Homo sapiens: one gene and its partners. The protein of the gene in region 1 interacts with the protein of each later gene in a pairwise test. Each region holds a gene or a part of one and is shown in the gene's direction. Other genes may lie near its edges.

The links.
Region 2: the proteins of NCALD (region 1) and C1QTNF2 interact in binary tests that used the Homo sapiens proteins (3 or more experiments, as listed by UniProt).
Region 3: the proteins of NCALD (region 1) and CREM interact in binary tests that used the Homo sapiens proteins (3 or more experiments, as listed by UniProt).

Annotation. Positions count from the first base shown.
Region 1 is NC_000008.11:101,721,275-101,725,029, reverse strand, and holds part of NCALD (neurocalcin-delta), read left to right. Parts: intron 1-3,678; exon of another isoform or gene 3,679-3,755. UniProt on the Homo sapiens protein: May be involved in the calcium-dependent regulation of rhodopsin phosphorylation. Binds three calcium ions.
Region 2 is NC_000005.10:160,363,958-160,367,712, reverse strand, and holds part of C1QTNF2 (complement C1q tumor necrosis factor-related protein 2 isoform 1 precursor), read left to right. Parts: intron 1-3,755. UniProt on the Homo sapiens protein: Involved in the regulation of lipid metabolism in adipose tissue and liver.
Region 3 is NC_000010.11:35,206,840-35,210,594, forward strand, and holds part of CREM (cAMP-responsive element modulator), read left to right. Parts: intron 1-55; coding exon 56-212; intron 213-2,472; coding exon of another isoform or gene 2,473-2,518; exon of another isoform or gene 2,519-3,755.

The DNA of each region.
Region 1 (3,755 bases):
TTTGCTCCCTGCTGAATTCCGCAGTGCCTAGGAGTGCCTCACCCCCAGTAGACACTTAGTGCCTGTTTGTGGAATAAATGAGTTCCAAAAGGAGGTTGTCTCCTTCTTCTTCACTACTTCTTTCTGACTTTTTATGGATTGTTGTCTTAATCTCTATAAATGCTTTGTCCTTGGGGCTAGTAGAGCATAGGGCTAAAACCACTGGGCAACCAAGCAGCAGCCCACACTCACAGTTAGGCTCTCTCATTCACAAGCAGTGTCACCTGGAATAAGTCACCTAGCCTCTCTGAGTTTTCATTTATTTGCTTATGAGATAGAGAAAGCCTGCCTGCCTATCACACAGGTTGTGAAAGTTTAATAGGATGTCACATGAAAGATCATCTAGGATAAGGCATCATTTTCATTTATGGCAGCGTCTGGCCCTGACTGAATGCCAGAGCTTTACATGTTTGACTGTCTCATTTAACTCTCACATGGAATCAATAAGAGATGAACTCATATCATTAAACTCATTTTACAGATGAGAAAACTGAGGAGAACCAAAATGTTAAGTGAATTACCCACCAGCTAGTAAACAATAGAGCCAGGCTTTGAAGCCAAGCATTTTTATTCTAGTGTTTTTCCAGTGTTCATCCAACAGGACATCCAGGAGGCCAACGTGTCATAGTTCCCAACAGATTATATTCTGAGTTATCTACAAACTTTTTTGAGTCACTTGAAGATTTGTCTTTACACTCTGATTATAGTTTCCACCAGCCTATGCAGACTGCCAAGTAGGTCTCATTTTTTCCTCTTAGAAATGGTAAAATATCATATAGTCACTTATAAGAAAAACTGTGATTAGAAAAAATTTTAGCATTATCCACTTTATGGTCATTCAAGAATGTTAAGTGTGAGCAGAGAACAACAGTTCCACAACTTGATTAGTTGGTAGTTTAACATGGATGTCTGAAAGTCACATATACGTAATTTCTTAGGATTCTTAAATTAGTAAATCTAGTTTACTGAAGCAGTATTAGCATTACTATTTTAGATTGCAAAAATGCCTTAATTGTGTAGAATTGGCTTATAGAGTGTTACTTAAGAAAAATGTGATTCTACCTCTATTTCTGTTGTAGCACACTTAACAACAAACAAACATGAAAAGATATATTAGCTTTCATAGAAACATTTTTGTTCTGTAAATAGGTTAATGATATGGTAAGGCCCCTAAGATAACTGAATTAACATTGTTTATATTAATGTTACTGCTGTTTATAAGATAGTATGAATTTGTGGGCTTATCTGAATTGTAGGCCATTCCCGTGATTAAAAATAAAGACAAAACTTTGAGTTACTGTTTGCGAAAACCTTATTGTGCTATGTAGAAATATTGAACTAATATTAAAATATTTGATGCTTTGGTTTCAGGGATTGGTTTAAAATTGGAGTCCTTTTTTTATTGGTTAGTCTTACAAAAGTGTAAGCCATTATATTTTTGACTATTTAAATAAAAACAAATGTTATTTTAAATATACAGAATGGATTGATAGTATAGGAGAGTGTAAGTTCTTCATAGGAACTTTAGAAAAGAAATATATGCTAATTCAGTTTTTTTAATCTTCTGCACAGTATATATACACTTGGTAATTTTGAACTCAATTTTGTGTTTTGAAAATATGTGTTCATAATTTAGGTAATTTGCTACTTAAAGCAATAAGTCTCTGATACCTGAAAAGTAAATGTAAATGGCGACGGTGAAATAATACTGCAATTAACTTAATAGAGAAAAAATTATTAAAAGACAGCCTGTCATACCTATGTTCAACTAGCACAAAATAAATGTTTTAATGACTGACTGGAGTTATGAAAACGATTTGACCCAAGGTGCAATTTTTGTCTCCAAACTGTTTTTCTCTTAACTGCCAATTACTGTAGCATTTCCCTAATGTTATCCTGCCCCATCCCTTCGACTCAAACGGGCAGAAATTCCTGTCTTCCCAAAGAAAAAGGTATTGTCAGGCTTCCCTCTGTCTTCCTCCTCACCACCTAAGGAATGAAACTCTGTCAAATGTCCCCTAAGATTTGTGTTGTACCATCTAACCAAGTCCAGATGGTGTCTCAAGTTTAGTCCTCATACTTAGTAAAGTGTTTGTAGATGAATTCTAGGCTTAATTGTGAACACTCGTTTTCCCAATAACTTATTCCATGCTTTTCTGACTTGTTTGTGTTATGGCCTTTCTGTGCTGATGAATTTGTAAATGTGGTTTAATTACTGTTTACCAAAAAATAGCTGCACACAGATCAGTCTCAGTGGGAGACTTAGCTAAAATGTTGAGGCAATTTGTTTCTAGTGCAAAAGCAGCTAATAAATTTGAAGCACTTTTTAAACACTGGGAAAGGCACTTAAGTTTGGTTGTGAAGAAACAGTGCTTTATACATTGGAGACATAAATCATTCTTTAAGAGAGTAGATTTAAATATCAGAATGGCATTTTTCCCCAAGGCCAGGCAAGCAGCAATTTGCACAAACTGTAAAAATGGTGATTTGATTGAAAACCACACCAAAGAGATATATTCTAAAGAACTCCCCAAAAGGAAAACTTGAAATTACTTGTAAATTCCATAAAATGTCTCAGAGCTCTAGAAAGCCGGGTATTATGTATTACCGGATGTTTCTGAATTCTGGCCTCAGGCAAATTGCCAACTTAGCAACTAAATGACAGCTTTACAATTCTAATACAAACCAGCCTCTGTAACTCTGTTTTTTTAATCTCCAGGGGAAAAAAAGGACACAGAGGGAAGTGAAAGATATTAGACTGTTCAATTTATAAATTCCATTTGTTCTCCATTTGAGTTGCAGTTGAATTTTGCTTTTGCATAAAATGGTGTTTGCTTGATTCTGCCTAAAGAGGGAACTCTGGGCCAAGCGTGGTGGCTCATGCCTGCAATCCCAGCAATTTGGAAGACGGCATGAGCCCAGGAGTCTGAGACCAGGCTAGGCAACAAAGTGAGACCCCCATCTCTACAAAAAATAAAAAATTTAGCCAGGCATGGTGGTACACACCTGTAATACCAGCTATTTGGGAGGCTGAGGCAGGAGGATTGCTTAAACTCAAGAGTTTGAGGCTGCAGTGGGCCATGATTGCACCAGCACATTGCAGCCTGAGTGACAGAGTCTTAAAAAAAAAAAAAAAGGCAGGGGGAACCCAAAAAGTAAGTTCCTTCCTACAGCAGTTGGCCATACTCATAGGTGAAGTGCCCCATACTCCCATCACTTTGGACACCTGCATATGAGCAGGGCAGGTTTTGCCTCCAGTGCAGAAGTCAGAAAACAAAATCAATAAACTTGGCAATGAATGAGGATTGCTGGTCATTATCTGAACCATGAGTATTATGCAAGCAGTTTGAGTAGCGTGAGATACAAACACCACCCCGTAGAAGTTTATTTTTAGTGAGGCCACCAGACAGGCCTCACTAAATTCAATATAAGAGATCCTAAGCTCAAGTCTTAACCACCAGATAGTTTTCAGTGTGTAAAATAGCGTTCTGAAAACCAAGCCCCCGTGCTTCTGGCAGTGAGCCTCCTTTTCCAAAATTATTCCATGTTTCCACTTTGTAGTTACCTTCCTATCAGTCATTTTTCTCAGTCATGCCTTCATTCATTCATTCACCAAATGCCATTTGCGGTGGGCTCTAGGAAGACGAAGCAACCCCAGTGGAGACTCTGCCTCAAGGGCCTGACTGTGTAGCAGGAGGGAGACAGAAACAAACCCC
Region 2 (3,755 bases), on another chromosome or scaffold:
GTGACAACACCACAGACTGGGGAGCTGCAACAATAGACATTTATTTCTCACGATCCCTAGAGGCTGGAAGCCCATCATCAAGGTATCTGCAGTGTTGGTTTCTTCTGAGTCCTCTCTCTGTGGCTTGCAGGTGGCCATCATCTGCTGTGTCTTCACATGGTTGTCACTCTGTATGTGTCTGTGTCCTGATCTCCTCTTAATGTAACGACACCACTCATACTGGATTAGGGCCTACCCATATGACTCATATTACCTTGGTTACCGTTTTTAAGGTCCTATCTCTAAATACAGTCCCATTCTGATAATCTAAGAGTTAGGACTTCAATGTGTGAATTCTGGGGAGACACAAGTCAGCCTGTAATACCTTGTCTCAAGGGGCAGCTACCTGTTGACCTGCCCAAATGCAGGCTCAGTGCTGCCCAGATCCTTCTGCTGCCCAAGAAAAGCTGCAAACGTCGATGTTAACAGAAAATCTCCCAAGTTTTACATTGGCAACAATTTCAAATTAAAAACCCAAAACAAAAAGTACAGAGTAGTCTGTGATCTGTGTGAGGCCACTGATAAGCCAACTGATCCCTGCTTGTCTAGGCTATAATTTCCTCAGTGGCAGGGGCATGTTCCATAGCTTTTTAATCCTCCTCAGCCAGTCTCTGCACGTTGTTTATTCTTTTTCTTTTTTTTTTTTTTTTTTGACAATGTCTTGCTCTGTTGCCCAGATTGAAGTGCAGCGGCACAATCTCTGTTCACTGCAGCCTCTGCCTCCTGGACTCAAGCAATTCTCCCCACTCAGCCCCCCAAGTAATTGGGACTACAGGCATGCACCACCACGCCCGGCTAATTTTTGTAGTTTTTGTAGAGATGAGGTTTTGCCATATTGTCCAGGCTGGTCTCGAACTCCTAGGCTCAGGCACTCCACCTGCTTTGGCCTCCAAAAGTGCTGGGATTATAGGTGTGAGCCGCCGCACTCAGCCTGCACATTGTAATATTAACAAAAAGTTAAAAGCTAATCACTGAATGACTAAATTTGAATTTTACAATCTTGTGTAAAGTAGGGCACACCTGTAGAAATCCTGTACCTCTTTGCATTTATGCCCAGCTATACAATTGCATCAGCCATTATAACTGCTTTCATTGCCATTGATGCCAAAGTTTGCAAATGTTCAGCTCCTCACGGGGTCACTGTTACGGCCACTTTACAGATGGGGAAACAGCAGACCCAGGTCTATCCAGGTTTACCCAGGTCTGCTTGTTTATTCTCATGAGTGTGGCAACCTTCTCCCATGACATCATCTTTCTCTTTGTTCTCAGGAATGATTATTGTATCAAAAATCACTACTGTTACTGAGTGCTTACTGTGGGCTGGTTGCTGCATTATCTCATTAAATATTCACAATTACTCTGTAAGGGAGGTGTGAGCAGTCAAATTACTCAAGGGAGGCATTCCTAAAGACCTCAAATAATTCAAAACTGGTATCATTAAAAGCTCACGGGCCGAATGGAAAACCAAACATTGTATGTTCTCACTCATAAGTGAGAGCTAAGCTATGAGGATGCAAAGGCATAAGAATGACACAATGGACTTTGGGGACTCAAGGGGAAAGGGTGAAAGGGAGCAATGGATGAAAGACTACAAATAGGGCACAGTGTGTACCGCTCGGGTGATGGGTGCACCAAAATCTCACAAATCACCACTAAAGAACTCACTCATGTAACCAAACACCACCTGTTCCCCAATAATCTATGGAAATTAAAAAATTTTTTAAAAAAGCTCACCTGCTGAAGAATGGTAGATATTTCTGATTACCTGTTAGGACAGTGCTGTTATGTGGCTATAGCATAAATACAGTTTACAATTTACAATTCACACTGCCTTACAAGATTTTTGACAACTTTTAACTTGGGAAAATTGGGGTTATTTCAGATTTCACACATCAAGTGAAACAATGAATATTCAAATTCAAATAAGACCATACAGTATTATTTTTCTCATTTTACAGACAAAGAAACTGAGGCCTAGAGAGATTAAATAACTTGGCCCAAGGTCAAACAGCTGGAAAACAACTTAACCACCAGACCAGCTCGTGCTTCTCTAGGGGTAGACCTGTATCTGATTTTTTTTTCTTTGTAGAGATGGCGGGGTGAGGTGGGGGGAGGTCTCACTTTGTTGCCCAGAGGGTCTCACTTTGTTGGCCAGACTGGTCTCGAACTCCTGTCTTCAGGTGATCCCCCCACCTCAGCCTCCCAAAGTGCTAGGATTATAGATGTGAGACATTGTGCCCGGCCCTGTATCAGAAGTTTAGGGTTACTCCGAACGCCCATCAAGGCCTGACCAGAAATGACTCCATGGAAGTTCTTGGGTTCACCCAGAAAAGTCAAGGAAAACTTAGCCTTTTCTCCCTGTCCCCTTCAAAGTTCAGATTCTGTTTCTCTCCCTCAGTTCTTAGATCTTCAAGTGTAGTCCCTTTTATGTCATTCCCAGGGATTGTTGCCTAATCCCAAAATTTCCTTCCCCTGCCGCCTGCCTGGTCTTGAATGCTGTTATGTCTAGATGCTGTTAGGTGCCTATTACAAAGGAAAAGGAGAGTGAGGCTTTTCTTTCCCGGTTACACAGGTGTGCCAGCTGGATGCTCAGGTAAGCAGACAGTTATAACCTGCCCAGGTAGTTCTAGGGATCAGAGTGGGCCCTACAGGAGCAGCAACTACATCTTTTCACCTCTAATTCCCCAGTGTCTGGCCTCAAAGGCAGTAATAATAAACCATACTATTTATTGGGTATCCATGTGCCAGGCTACAGTATCATGCACACATGCACACCTCATATCCCATTTGGCCCTGTCGCTTGATGAGATGAGCACCATCCCGCTTCTTCCCTGGTCTTTGTATTATGGAGCACAGACACGCCAGGTGGCTCAAAGTTGTGGAGCCAAGGCAACACCCCATCCTTCCCTCAGAGCAGAAACAGCAAGGCAGGAAAAAAGGCCCAGCCTCCCTAGGACTTTTTTTTGGTAGCACCTGACAGAGCCATCACTCAAAGTGATAAGTGAAAATGGGAATTTATGAGAAGCTACAGGAGTCTCTACCTGAAATGCATGCAGGACTCAGGGTGGCAGATCAGGACTGGTTTTTGTTAGTTCAACTGCAGTTAGTGGCAATTACAATTTTAAACAAGGTCTTAAAACTCGTATCATTACATTCAACATCCATTATCTTGTTTGATTTTCGGAAGGGCAAGAAATAATAAAATAATAGAAGCTAATGCTTTTATACCTCTTGCCATATGCCAGGCCTTATTCTAGAAACATTAAATCCTCGTAACAACTGTCTAAGGTAGGTTCTATTATTATCGTGTTCATGTTGGAGAGGAGGAGACTGAAGGGGAGAGATTAAGTAACGTGTAAAGGTACTACAGCTAGTTCATGGCATCTGAACTCACACAGCTATGCTGGAGCTATTATGGAAGCCACCATGCGGCTATTGGAGACTTGGAATGCTCCAGTCTGAATTGAGATCCGCTGCAAGTGTGAAATACATCACTGGGCTTCAAAGACTTAGTACTAACTTAAGAATGTAAAATGTCTCATTAATAATTTTTATGGTGATTACATGTTGAAATGATGATATTTGGGAAATCAAGGGCTAAATAGCATTGAAATTAATTTCACCTGTTTCTTTTTTACTTTTTTAATGTGACTACAAGACAAACTGACACATGTGACTTGCGTCATTTTCCTATTGGGCTGAGCTGCTCACACCCA
Region 3 (3,755 bases), on another chromosome or scaffold:
AAATGCCAAATTATGAATTCTTTATATAAGCTCAAAATATTTTGTTTTACTGCAGCTGCCACTGGTGACATGCCAACTTACCAGATCCGAGCTCCTACTGCTGCTTTGCCACAGGGAGTGGTGATGGCTGCATCGCCCGGAAGTTTGCACAGTCCCCAGCAGCTGGCAGAAGAAGCAACACGCAAACGAGAGCTGAGGCTAATGAAAAACAGGTGAGGTGTTGCACAGGGAATCGGTAACTTCTAGGACACTTTTTAAAAATTACAGTTTTCACCGGGCGCAGTGGCTCACGCCTGTAATCCCAGCACTTTGGGAGGCCAAGGCAGGCGGATCACAGGGTCAGGAGATCAAGACCATCCTGGCTAACACGGTGAAACCCCATCTCTACTAAAAAATACAAAAAAATTCGCCGGGCGTGGTGGCAGGTGCCTGTAGTCCCAGCCACTTGGGAGGCTGAGGCAGGACAATGGCATGAACCTGGGAGGCGGAGGTTGCAGTGAGCCAAGATCGTGCCACTGCACTCCAGCCTGGGCGACAGAGCGAGACTCCATCTCAAAAAAATAATAAAACAATATTAAATATTAATAAATGATAATAAAATAATGATAAAAATAATATCAATAAATAAAAATAAAAATAAAAATTACAGTTTTCAGCTGGGCGCAGTGGCTCCCGCCTGTAATCCCAGCACTTTGGGAGGTCAAGGCGGGCAGATCACAAGGTCAAGAGATTGAGACCATCCTGGCCAATATGACGAAACCCTGTCTCTACTAAAAATACAAAAATTAGCTGGGTGTGGTGGTGTGCACCTGTAATCCCAGCTACTCGGGAGGCTGAGGCAAGAGAATCACTTGAACCCGGAAGGCGGAGCTTGCAGTGAGCTGAGGTCGCGCCACTGGACTGCAGCCTGGGTGACAGTGAGACTCCGTCTTAAAAAAAAAAAATTACAGTTTTCATAAGCCATTTCTCCCAAGTTACATGTTGTGTGGCATTTCATGTAGGTTTGTGCTCTGTGTGTGTTATTAGATTGTCTTCCAGTCAGAATTCCTGGCTGTTAAACTATTTCATCAGCAGGAGTTACATCCCTATGTTGTAAGGGTGATGTCCAAAAGATACAGTAATTTTTAAAAATAATGATTAAAGGACTTTGTTAGAAACAAAGAGCTATTTTGTATTTAGTATTTGCTGTGAAGTAGGTGATAAGTCGAATTTTTTAGCTTCTCTCTGAGAAAAATGAAGTGTAAGTGAGGCGTTACTTTTCGACATTTTCTACATGTAGTTTCCTTTTGTCTATTTTTTAACTTTTTTTCCTCTATTACACTGAAATACATATTTAATCTGATAAATTCTAGTCAAGTGCAAATACAAAATAACAAAAAGAATTAAAATCATCCATGGCTCTAACCACTTAGGATACCTCCTATTATAGTCTATGTACTTCCAGTCAGCTCTCATTTTCTCTCACTTTTTCTTGCTCCATATCTCTGTCATTTTATTTTTAAGCAACATATTATAAAATGCTATTTTCTAAAACTTTTTAAAAATTTAAACATAAATAAAATTTTATTTAACTTGTATATTATTTATTGGTTTAGTTTTTATTATGAATAATGGTGCAAATTAATCTGATTTTCAAAAGGAACAGAATTGTCTTAGAGTTTCCCAGTAGTCTTGTCACCTTAGTCCTAATGTCAAATAATGTCCTCATTGTGTGCAGCCAGGACAGAGATTCAGCAGTGTTATCAAGGGCCCAGACTCCCGCTCCCGGCTGTGTCATCTTCAGCATGTATCATTCATTCTCATGATCACAGCGCGGCTACTGAACCTCTAGGCATTGCCTCAGACAGGAAGAAGGGCTAGAGCCAAAAATTGGGGCTAGCTGAGGTCTGGCCCAACTGCAAACCTTTCCTGGAAGATCCTCCCAGCAACTTTCACCTACATTTCATTGGCTAGAAATAGGTCTTTAGTCCCTAGCTGTACAGGATTCTGAGAAAGGTTTATTTTCGCTTTCTAAATCTCAGTTTCAGAGCAAGACAAGAGAAATGCAGATGATACCTGGCTGTTAGGTTGCTCATTATCTGTTTAGCAGATTTTAAGTGCTTTATTTCTACTGTGTGTTTAATGCTTACATGAGAATAGGTGATTATTATGCCCAGTTTACAGATGAGGACCAGAAGTTCAGAGATGTTAAGGAATAAGTTGGTCAAGATCACATGGCCCAAACTGGGCAGAACCAGGATGGGCAACCGGGCAGTCTTTATTCCAGAGCCTGTCCTCTATACCAGCATCAGGCATCTCAAAAATACCCCATGATAACCTGCAAATTTCACTTCCTGGGGAAGTGTGAGGCTTTAGTCATTCACAGATAGATCTCTTACATATTTTCTTTTTATTCTTTGATTGGCATCTATAATCGATATCTCATTATATCGTATTTCTGCCAATCCAGCAACAGTTTTTATTTCTTTCCAGCCTTGTCAGAGTTTCTTCCTTGCCTTGCACTTCCTCTCCGTGCTGAGGATACACCCAGACACATGCAAGCCTGAAAACCGAGCTCACTATTAATAGAAGAAACAGGTGTTTTCCATGGCTGAGGAGTGCTTAGGAATGTACCATCTACTGATGTGATCGGGGAAAGCTTTGTGCCTGCAACATTTTGACTCTAGTAATATGTGTGTCTGTGCATGCACACACACACATGCACACTCAAATGTAGAAGATGAAGTATGAGTATTTATAATAGCTTATTAAAGAAAATGTTTAAACACCCGCAACACCGCTATTAGGTCTTTAAATTTTTCATTTAATGGTAACCATGTTTTGTAAAATGACTATCTTCCTTCTAGGTCTAGAATTTAATATAATTTAATCATGAAAACGTTGGTATTCATAAATGAATTTCAGTGCCTTTGTGGAAAAGAGTTAAATTATGTCCCCAAATTGGCAAATGTGTGTGTTTGGATTTATTCTTAACTTTTCCAATTGCATCATTTAGATTAAATTAGTCACTATAACATTCTTTTCAATTTTACATTTTAAATTTCTTTTGTTAACCAGCTGAGAAGTCTGAGAACTTTGTATGTTCACAGGGTGAGTCCATTGTTCCTGGCTAGGAAGCAGGGGTTGATCTTTTCCTGCAGTTCATTTGGATTGAAGGTTCTTCTTTGCTGACTCTTGCTTCCATAGTGAAAACACAGATATCCACTCAGTGAGAGTCAGCTATCTTAAAAAAAAAAAAAAAATCATGTATACATCACATGTGGTTCAGGATGCTAGCTGGCATTACAGAAACTGGTGTTTAGACATTCAACACTGCTTTTTTTAACATATTTGAATGATAGTGTCTGTTTCAGTGCAGGCTTTTTTGACATGAAGGGTGATCTACCTCAAAGGCAGTTATTCTGGAATTGAATCCTCCAAAATGAGGCCAATTAAAGGGTGTCTTCTACATAGGAGTTAAGGGAAGTGGTTGCCATCCCTCCCACCCTGAAAAAAAGAAAAAGAGAAAATGTTGGCTCTATTTATTGTTTTGGTGGGGTTATGTATGAAAATGACTAAGTCAACTCATCTGTTTGTGTTGTTGCTTTGGCTACTGGTCTGTTCTTTCATTTTGGGCTTATAGTGCTTTAAAATTCAATATATTGGATATTAAATGCATGTGATTAGGAAACAGTCTTGAAATATGCCCAGAGTTACTCAGTAGCTTCTTTTTTATAATTTTAATTGTGGTGGTCTCACATTTGTGGGTTTAAATT